Linked DNA regions of Homo sapiens: region 1 is linked to region 2. Evidence: fine-mapped expression QTL. A gene starts in region 2. The other region holds a variant in brackets. All regions are shown on one strand. Distances are between the middles of the regions. Region 1 overlaps DDB2 (damage specific DNA binding protein 2). Region 2 holds the start of ACP2 (acid phosphatase 2, lysosomal).

Region 1 (5,373 bases), 23 kb before region 2:
CTTTCATTCTTTCATGTGATCCAGATTTCCTTTTGGTAATATTTTCTTTCTGCCTGAAGAAATTCCTTTCATATTTCTTATAATGCAGATTGGTGATAAATACTTTCCACTGTTGTTTATCTAGAAAAGTATTTTGCCTTTATTTTGAGGGAGGATGTTTTTGCTAAGTATAGAATTCTAGGTTCACAGTTTTTAAAATTATTTAACTTTTATTTTTTAATTGGTAAATTAAAATTGTATTTTATTGCATACAATATATTTGTTCACAGTTTTCTCCTGTCAGTACTTTAAAGATGATGTCTAGGCTGGGCGCTGTGGCTTACGCCTGTAATCCCAGCATTTTGGGGGGCCAAGGCAAGTGGATCATTTGCGATCATGAGTTTTAGACCAGCCTGGCTAACATGGTGAAACCCCGCCTCTACTAAAAATACAAAAATTAGCTGGGTGTGGTGGCGCTCACCAGTAATCCCAGCTACCCGGGAGGCTGAGGCATGAGAATCTTGAACCTGGGAGGCAGAGGTTGCAGTGAGCCGAGATGGTGTCACTGCACTCCATTCTGGGTGACAGAGCAAGACTGTGTCTCAAAAATAAATAAATAAGGCTGGGCGCGGTGGCTGACACCTGTAATCCCAGCGCTTTGGGAGGCCGAGGCAGGCGGATCACGAGATCAAGAGATTGAGACCACCCTGGCTAACACGGTGAAACCCTGTCTGTTCTAAAAATACAAAAAAAATTAGCCAGGCGTGGTGGTGGGCGCCTGTAGTCCCAGCTACTTGGGAGGCTGAGGCAGGAGAATGGTGTGAACCCAGGAGGCAGAGCTGGCAGTGAGCCGAGATCGGCCACTTCACTCCAGCCTGGGTGACAGAGCAAGACTCCGTCTAAAATAAATAAATAAATAAAGAATAAAAATAAAGATGATTTCTAGTTGGGCTCAATGGTTCATGCCTGTAATCTCAACACTTTGAGAGGCTGAGGCTGGGGGACCTCTTGAGGCCAGGACTTTAAGACCAGCCTAGGAAACACAGCAAGACCCCATCTCTACAAAAAAATCTTAAAAATTAGCTAGTGGCTTGAACTTGTAGTTCCAGCTGTTCAGGAGGCTGAGGTGGGAGAATTGCTTAAGCCCAGGGGGACAAGGCTTCAGTGAGCTAGGCAAGCCTGGGTGACAGAGCAAGATCCTGTCTCAATTAAAAACAAAACAAAACAAAACATCCTGATGAGAAGTCTGCTACTATCCTTATGTTCCTGTCTATGTAATTTTTCTTCTGGTCGCTTTAAAAATGATTATGATGTGCTTGTGGGGGGATCACTAAGCTTCTTTGATTTATGGATTTTTTTTTTCTTTTGAGACAAAGTCTCACTCTGTCGCCCAGGCTGGTGTGCAGTGCCACAATCTCGGCTCACTGCAACCTCCACCTCCAGGGTTCAAGCGATTCTCCCTGCCTCAGCCTCCCGAGTAGCTGGGATTACAGGTGCCCACCACCTCACCTGGCTAATTTTTGTATTTATTTATTTTTATTTTATTTTTTTAGTAGAGACAGGGTTTCACCATGTTGGCCAGGCTGGTCTTGAACTCCTGACCTCCAGTGATCCGCCCACCTTGGCCTCCTGAAGTGCTGGGATTACAGGCGTGAGCCACCTTGCCCAGCCCATTATTTCTTACAAAGAGTTCAAAATGAAGAAAAAGAACAGTTCTTTTTTTCTTGGGACTGCGATTACATATGGTCCTGCAGGTGGTTGATGCACTGTTCATTTTTGTCTTTTTCCCTGTTTCATTTTGTGCAGTTGTTCACTGATCTTTACTTCTGTAATATCTAACCTTCTGCTGTCAATCCCTCCCTCCCTCCCTCCCTTCGTTCCTTTCTCTCTCTTCTCTTCCTCTTCCTTTTCTCTTCTCTTTCTTGCCTGTGCAGAGCAGGGCTGCTCCATAGGCAAAGTAGCCCAGCGTATTTTTCATTTCAGATACTGTATATCCCCTCTAGAAGTTTAATTTGGATTTTTTTTCATGTCTTCCATTTCTCTCCTCATATTTATTATTTCCTCTTCTTTCTTTTTTGAGATGAGGTCTCACTCTCTCTTCCAGGCTGGAGTGCACTGGCATGAGATCTCAGCTCACTGCAACCTCCACCTCCCAGGTTCAAGCGACCCTTCTGCCTCAGCCTCCTGAGTAGCTGGGATTACAAGTGTGCACCACCACGCCCAGCTAATTTTTGTATTTTTAGTAGAGACCAAGTTTCACCATATTGGCCAGGCTGGTCTCAGACTCCTAACCTCAAGTTATCCACCCACCTTGGCCTCCCAAAGTGCTGGGATTACAGGCTTGAGACACTGCTCCTGGCCCGATCCTGTGTCTTTAAAAAAAAAAAAAAAAACTCTAACAAGTAATACTGCTTTTTTTAAAAAAAATTGTGGGCCAGGCTCAGTGGCTCACGCCTGTAATCCCAGCACTTTGGGAAGCTGAGGTGGACGGATCACAAGGTCAGGAGATCGAGACCATCCTGGCCAACATGGTGAAACCCCGTCTCTACTAAAAA[C/T]ACAAAAAATTAGCTGGGCATGGTCGTGGGCGCCTGTAATCCCAGCTACTGGGGAGGCTGAGGCAGGAGAATCACTTGAACCCGGGAGGCAGAAGTTGCAGTGACCCGAGATTATGCCACTGCACTCCAGCCTGGGCAACAGAGCGAGACTCCATCTCTATTTTAAAAAAAAAAAACAAAAAACTGGTAGAAAACACGTAAAACAATTTACAATCTTTACTATTTTTAAGTGTACAGTTTAGTAATGTTAACTATATTCACATTGTTGTGCAACAGATCACTAGAACTTTTTTCTTGTAAAACTGAAACTCTATACCCACTGAACAAGCCTCCACTTCTCCCTCCCCTTAGCCCCTGGCAACCACAGTACTACTTTCTGTTTCTGTGAGTTTGACTACTTTAGATATCTCATCTAAGTGGAATCATACAGTATTTGTCTTTTTGTGACAGGCTTATTTCACTTAATGCAGTGTTTTAAGATTCATCCATGTTGTAGCATGTGGCAGAATTTCCTTTTTTAAGGCTGAATAATGTTCCATTGTTTGCGTGTACCACCTTTTGTTTATCTGTTTATTAATTGACAGACACTTGGGTTGATTTCATCTTTTGGCTATTGTGAATAATGCTGCAGTGAATGTGGATGTGCAAATATCCCTTTGAGACCCCGATTTCAGTTCTTTGGGGCTTATGCCAATAAGTACGATTGCTTCATCAAATGGTAATTTTGTTGTTCATTTTTTGAGGAACCGCTATATTGTTTTCCATACTGGCTATACCATCTCATGTTCCCATCAGCAGTGTACAAATGTCCCAACTTCTCTACTTCCCCACCAACATTTATTTTCTTTTTTTTTTTTTTTGAGATGAAGTCTCCCTCTGTCGCCCAGGCTGGAATGCAGTGGCACAGCCTCAGCTTACTGCAACCTCTGCCTCCTGAGTTCAACTGATTCTCCTGGCTCAGCCTCCAGTAGCTGAGATTATAGGCGCACACCACCATGCCCGGCTAATTTTTGTATTTTCAGTAGAGACGGGTTTTGCCACGTTGGCCAGGCTGGTCTTGAACTCCCGACCTCAGGTGATTCATTTGCCTTGGCCTCCCAAATTGCTGGGATTACAAGTGTGAGCCACCATGCTCGGCCTTTTCTGTTTTTTTGATAGTGGCCATCCTAAGGGATGTGAGGTGATAGCAGTGTAGTTTCATTTGCATTTCTCTAATGATTAGTGATATTGAGCATCTTTACGTGTGCTTCTTGGCCATTTGTATATTTTCTTTGAAGGAATGTCTATTCAAGTCCTTTGCCTTTTTTTTTTTTTTTTTTTTTTTTTGAAACAGGGTCTTACTTGGTCACCCAGGCTGCAGTACAGTGGCACAATCATAGCTCACTGCAGCCTCGAACTTCTGGGCTCCAGTGATCCTGCTGCCTTAGCCACCCGAGTAACTGGGACTGCAGGTGCTCACCATCATACCTTGCTAACTTTGTTTTGTTTTGTTTTTTTCGCTGTCTCTTACAGAAAGGACTTACTAAGTTAAAAAAAAATTTTTTTTTATAGAGATTGGATCTTGCTATGTCTCCCAGGCTGGTCTTGAACTCCTGTTTGCCTGTTTTTTAGTTGGGTTATTTGTTGTTGTTTTGTAGGGGTTCTTTATATATTCTGGATATTAACCTTTTTTTTTTTTTTTTTTTTTTTTGAGATGGAGTTTTGCTCCTGTTGTACAGGCTGGAGTGTAATGGCTCAATCTCGGCTCACTGCAGTCTCCACCTCCCGGGTTCAAGCAATTCTCCTGCTTCAGCCTCCTGAGTAGCTGGGATTACAGGCATGCGCCACCATGCCCGGCTAATTTTTGTGCTTTTAGTAGAGACAGGGTTTCACCATGTTGGCCAGGCTGGTCTTGAACTCCTGACCTCAGGTGATCTACCCGCCTCGGCCTCCCAAAGTGCTGGGATTATAGGTGTGAGACACTGCGCCCGGCCATGATATTAACCTCTTATCAGATCTATGATTTGAAAATATCTTCTCCCACTTCATAGATTGCCTTTTCACTTTGTCGATTGTTTCTTTTGATGCCTGAATTTTTTTTTTTTTTTTAATTTTGAGATGGAGTTTCACTCTTGTCACCCAGGCTGGAGTGCAATGGCGCAATCTTGGCTCACTGCAACCTCCACCTCCCGGGTTCAAGCAATTCTCCTGCCTCAGCCTCCCAAGAAGCTGGCACCCACCACCACGCCCAGCTGGCCCGATTGATTTTTAATAGTTAAACCAACTTTGCATTCTTGGAATAAGTTCATCCTGGCCATAACATATTTATCGTTTTTAAATATTACTGGATTGAGCTGGCAAATATTTTAAGATCTTTGCATTTGTGTTCATGTGTAAAATTGGCCAAATCCTTGTCACATTTGTGTATCAAGATTATGCTGATTTCTGGCCAGGCGTGGTGGATCACGCCTGTAATTCCAGCACTTTGGGAGGCCGAGGGGGTCGGATTATGAGGTCAGGAGATGGAGACCATCCTGGCCAACATGGTGAAACCCCGTCTCTACTAAATATGCAAAAATTAGCTGGGCGTGGTGGCGCACTCCTGTCATCCCAGCTACCCGGGAGGTTGAGGCAAGAGAATCGTTTGAACTTGGGAAGTGGAGGTTGCAGTGAGGTGAGATCGTACCACTGCACTCCAGCCTGGCAACAGAGTGAGGCTCTGTCTCAAAAAAAAAAAAAAAAAAAAAAGATTATGCTGATTTCTGTGAATTGCTTGAGCCCAGGAGGCAGAGGTTGTAGTAAGCTGAGTGCACCACTGCAGTCCAGCCTGAGCGACAGAGCACAACTCTGTCTCAAAAAA
Region 2 (5,373 bases):
GTCACCCAGCAAACTAAACCTACCATACATCTGGCCCTCACCCTCCTCTGGCCTCTGGCCTTCCCCATCCCCCAAACACTCCACTGGGGGTTGTCACCACTCTGTGAAGAACTCTTGTGGGAATGGCCTTAGTTGAAATGCCCCTTCCAGTCAAAAGTGCTGAGTCAATCAGTAAGGCTCTCTGGTCTGTCTGGTTTCATAACAACACCTCTCTCCCTGTCTAGATCAGGGTCCTTGGGGCAGAAACTGGCTCCAGTGACGACCCTTAGAGACCAGGGAGAAAAAAATAAGATAAAGGGCTGGGCCTGGTGGCTCACACCTATAATCCTAGCACTTTGGGAGGCCAATGCAGGAGGATCGCTTGAGGCCAGGAGCTCGAGACCAGCCTGGGCAACATAGTGAGACCCTGTCTCTACAAAAAAAAATTTTTTAATTACCCAAGTGTGGCGGGCACTTGTAGTCCCAGCTACTTGGGATGCTGAGGCAGGAGGATCACTTGAGCCCAGGAGTTTGAGGCTGCAGTGAGCTATGACTGAGGCATGTGCTACAGTTTGGGTGACAGAGTGAGACCCCTTTAAAATATATGTATATATTTTGGGCCGGGCACGGTGGCTCATGCCTGTAATCCCAGCACTTTAGGAGGCCGAGGCAGGCGGATCAGCTGAGGTCAGGAGTTCAAGACCAGCCTGGCCAACATGATGAAATCCTGTCTCTACTAAAAATACAAAAATTAGCCAGGCATGGTGGCACACACCTGTAATCCCAGCTACTTGGGAGGCTGAGACAGGAGAATCGCTTGAACCTAGGAGGTGGAGGTTGCAGTGAGCCAAGACCATGTCACTGCACTCCAGCCTGAGCAACACAGCAAGACTCTGTCTCAAAAAAAAAAATTTTTTTTGAAGAGCTTATTCAGAGATAGTGGCTCATGAAAAGGGAGGAGGAAACTGGGGAAGGACAAGCTCAGGACAGAGCTGGGCCTTAAGAGAACAATAACAATGTCTATGGATTCTTGATACGGCTGAGGCTGACAGTGGTAATCAGAGGAACAGCTTCCCCCATTCCTGGGGTGGGGCGAAGACTCAAGGAGCAGGCACACTCACCAGTCCTCCCTGATGTGCCCTAGGAATATAGCACGACCTGGCGCAGCAGACAGGGCTCAAAAACCTCATCTTGATCAAGAAAAGACAAGCCCTCTCTACGCATGTCTTCCCCGCTGTCTTTCATCTTGGCCCTGTCTGGTTTATCATTAGATACCCCCACAACATTCTAAGCTCCATGAAGACAGAGATCATATCTGTATGGTGCACAACTGAATGCAAAGTGCTAGCACAGTCCTTGGCCTTTAATAGGTACTCAATGTCTTGGATGGAAAGCCTGTGATTTCACAGTCAGAAACCACTTTGCCAGGCCCGCCCTTAAGTCCGAATTTGGATGCTTAATCAAATTTGCCTCATCCCAGCCAAGCAGGGGCAACTCAGCTCCTAGGGCTTTGTTCCAGACAGCTCTCAGATGTCTTTTCCTGTAGTTGTGACCAAAAATACAAGAAGGAGGCCAAAGTGCCCAGCCTCAGCCTTAGGCTCCCTGAGGGCAAAAGATGAGGGCAGCATACCTTGTTCCCCTTGCCTCTGGAGCTCCCAACCTTACCTCTTGCCGGTGATAAGAGGTGTTTAGGAAGCCGTGATAGCGCTGCCGCAGGGCCTGGCCCAGTTCCCAGTGCTGTAGCATCCCCTCCTGTGGGCAAACCCAAGGGTTAAGAGGGTCTAGAGGGAAGGGGTGGCTTCAAGCCCCATGGGGTTTAGGCCCTGTTGCTTTCCAGGTTCACGCTTTGCTGGAGTCAATTAATCTGATCCCAGAAGTCTTTCATTAAGTGGCCAGTCATGCACAGCAATATCATGGGCACAGAGATTAAGGTTATGAAATCTGGTCAAAGTCAGCACCCATATGGGAAAAGGCAGTTTAGTAGGACCCCAAGTTTTGTAGACTGCTCTAGACGTCGCTCATTCTGCAGCTCATCCTGAGGAAAGGCTGGCTTCTGACCCACCTTGGTTAACTGACCAAACCCCTGGGGCCATTCTTCTTCCTGATAGGGGTCCTTGGGATATGTCTTCACTGGTGAACGGTCTCCATGGCGGTACAGCTGAGAGAATAAAATGGTTTGCCTATAGGTCAGAAGCATCCCCTTGATAGGGACCCAGAGCCTACCTTTTGCCCCATGTTAGGGAAGGAAGTCTCATTCCCTCTGGGAAGCCTACTGGCTGCAAAAGACCCCAGCTAGGAGTCAGTCACTTCTTCCAGATTCCAGAGATTCTAACTTAGCTAAGCAATGCTACTGGAGACCATAGGCAAAGCCAAGGTACAGGTAGGAAGGGAAAAGAGAAGTGAAAGCAACGTATGTGGTGGGGACAACTGGGGAAAAAAGATAACCAAAGGCTTCTTTAGGGATGAGTCTTAACCATTCAACCACTTCCCTGTCTCAAGGCAGACTCACCCCGACGTATTCGGTCATCCTGACTCCCATAAGCCAGGGCTCCAGGTCAATCCTGAATCCAGCCTCCCAACTACCCAGGCCAGTCGTCCCCTCCTAAACCAGCTGTTCCTTCCCGAGATCCTCGACCTCCACCAGCTGGCCTTTGCCCTTTTAGCTTCAGGGAAGTCTTTGGTGAGCCCATCTCTCATTACCAAGGTAACGAAGCGCAGACTCCGGGCCCGGGTGGGCGGCATCACCACCAGGTTCACGCCGAGAAGGAGCTGGAGGAGAGCCGCCCGGCTCCAGCCGGACCGCTTGCCCGCCATCACCGTTGTAATCTATGCAGCAAACAAGCTGGAACCCGCTGGGTGGCACCTGCAAGCAGCCGCCCGGACGCACCCGTAAGGACACACGCCGGAAGTGCGTTCGCCGCCATCTTACTTAGGGACCTGCTGGGGTGCGGGGAAAAGGCGCAGTCTCGGTGGGATTGCGTGCAGGAGGGTCGTGGTCTGGCTGTGGCGGAGGAGCATAAGAAGGTAACGCGACCTGGCGCGGCAGACAGGGCTCGAAGACCTCATCTTGATTAAGAAGGCCACAAATTCGCGTTTGCCTCTGCTCGGAGAAATCCCTTACCAAGGTGGCACTTGCAGTGGGCGGGACCATGTCTGGAGAACCAGCGTCCCCTCCAGGCTTGACCCCATAGCTAGATCGGGTGCAGAATTGAGGCGAGGGATGGGAAAGTAGAGGTCGCTTCTCTCCACGCCCCTGCCTTTGTGGGGAGATTGAGCCCTGGCCCTGTTCTCCAGGAGATGTTTTGCTTGGGGTGCAGGACACAGTATGTAAACAACCCTTTGGACTCCGTGTGTCCTTGAGGTTGCCCCAGTCTGGCCTACCGTTCCTGCCCTGCACAAAGCTTCAGTAGCCCTCTCACTTTCCCTTCCAGTCCTTTCCCTGTCCTCCCTCCCCTCCACTTCCAAGTTTTAGTTAATTAGAGTCAAGACGTCATGTCATGCCTCTTCCCAAAGGAGTTGGGTTGCACAGGATGTTCAGACTTTACAAACCCAAAGCACTGAATCCCTGGGGGAGGAATTTCAGACCAGTGGGGAGGTATTTTGAGGTAAGGGACAGGCGCATATCATAAAGTGGGAGTAGGTGGGGTTTCCACAGAATCAATGGCCCTCTTGGCATTGACCATTAGGATTCAGGTGCAGCCAGTTTGGCCTCAGGACTTTGTGACTCCTGTGACGGTTGCAGGTCAGATCATAGGTCCTGGGGATGCTTTGATTCAGATCTGCCTACTGGAAGCAAATCTCCTCAGATCTTTGGGAAACAAAACTGATCAGGCTTGGCCTGGGCGCCGTGGCTCACCTGTAATACCAGCACTTTGAGAGGCCGAAGCAGGCAGATCACCTGAGGTCAGGAGTTCGAGACCAGCCTGGCCAACGTGGCGAAACCCCGTCTCTACTAAAAATACAAAAAAAAAAAAATTAGCCGGGTGCAGTGGCGTGCTCCTGTAATCCCAGCTACTCTGGAGGCTGAGGCAGGAGAATCGCTTGAACTCGGAAAGCGGAGGTTGCAGTGAGCTGAGATCACGCCACTGCACTCCAGCCTGCGCGACAGAGTGAGACTGTCTCAAAACAACAACAACAAAAACCTGATTAGGCTTGGTGTGGTGGCTCACGTTTCTAATCCCAGCACTTTGGGAGGCCAGGGTGGGAAGATTGCTTGAGCCCAGGAGTTGGAGACCAGCCTGAGCAGCTTAGGAAGATCTCCTCTCTACAAAAAAAAGTTTAAAAATTAGCTGGGTGTGGTGGCACACACCTGTGGTCCTAGCTCCTCGGGAGGCTGAGGTGGGAGGATCACCTTCAGCCCAGGAGGTTGAGGCTGCAGTGAGCCATGATGGTGCAACTGCACTCCAGTCTAGATGACAGAGCAAGACTGTGTCTCAAAAAGAAGAAAAGAAAAAAAAAGATCAGGATTATCTGTCTTTATTTTGTCCTAGGACTCCAGATTCAATTATTTATATATACTTCAGGATTTAAACTTTGCTTCCAGAGTTGTCATGGAGGAGGCCAAGAAGCAAATAGAGTAAGAGCCAAAGCCTGGGTAGCCAAACAGTTCTTAACCTTCTTATTTAATCACAAGCCCCTTTATGAATCACATGAAAATTTTGCACCTCTCCTCCAGAAAAATGTTCACACATATAAACACACACATGGAATTTTGCATATAATCCCAAATGGTTCACAAAGACCATTTATTACAGGTTTCATAAATCAGCATCTCTGAATACCTGATTTAACCTAGTCCTCTTACTTTACAGCTTAGGAAACAAACCTAAAGAGAGGAAGTGACTTGCCCAAATTCACAGTTTGGGCATGGGCACAGTTTGAGAATGGATTAAAAGTCAAGTTTTGGCCGGGTGCGTGCTCACGCCTGTAATCCCGGCACTTTGGGAGGCCGAGGCGGGTGGATCACGAGGTCAGGAGATCAAGACCATCCTGGCTAACATGGTGAAACCCCATCTCTACTAAAAATACAAAAAGTTAGCCGGGTGTGGTGGCAGGTGCCGGTAGTCCCAGCTACTCAGGAGGCTGAGGCAGGAGAATGTCGTGAACCCAGCAGGCGGAGCTTGCAGTGAGCGGAGATCGTGCCACTGCACCCCAGCCTGGGCGACAGAGCAAGACTCCGTCTCAAAAAAAAAAAGTCAGGTTTTGTGATTTTCAGTTAAATAGTCTATAATGGGCTGCTTCTTGCAGGCTACTCAAACTGCATTACTAAACTGTAATTGGTGATCCCGAAATCCTTTCAATAAAGAGGTATCTGTCAAAGGAAACCTTTTCAAATTAGTTGGACTAAACGGGACCTAGGCCGGACATGGCTCACACCTGTAATCCCAGCACTTT

What was found. PIP is the estimated chance that this variant, and not a neighbour inherited with it, causes the effect.
Region 1: its variant is the best candidate, but not a certain one, in a credible set for the expression of ACP2 in whole blood (TOPMed, PIP 0.53).

Annotation. Positions count from the first base shown.
Region 1 is chr11:47,222,900-47,228,272 of GRCh38, forward strand. All of the region lies in intron 3 of DDB2 (damage specific DNA binding protein 2), which reads left to right. Among named protein-coding and RNA genes, the nearest start is that of DDB2, 11 kb to the left of the region's middle. The variant C/T (reference allele first, on the strand shown) is at 2,535.
Region 2 is chr11:47,245,997-47,251,369 of GRCh38, forward strand. It overlaps ACP2 (acid phosphatase 2, lysosomal), which reads right to left and starts at 2,818. Exons shown (of 11, transcript NM_001610.4): 1 at 2,680-2,818; 2 at 2,042-2,137; 3 at 1,645-1,731. The coding sequence starts at 2,793. It also overlaps a transcript of NR1H3 not described here. RefSeq lists enhancers at 2,284-2,373, 2,504-3,013 and a silencer at 3,094-3,261.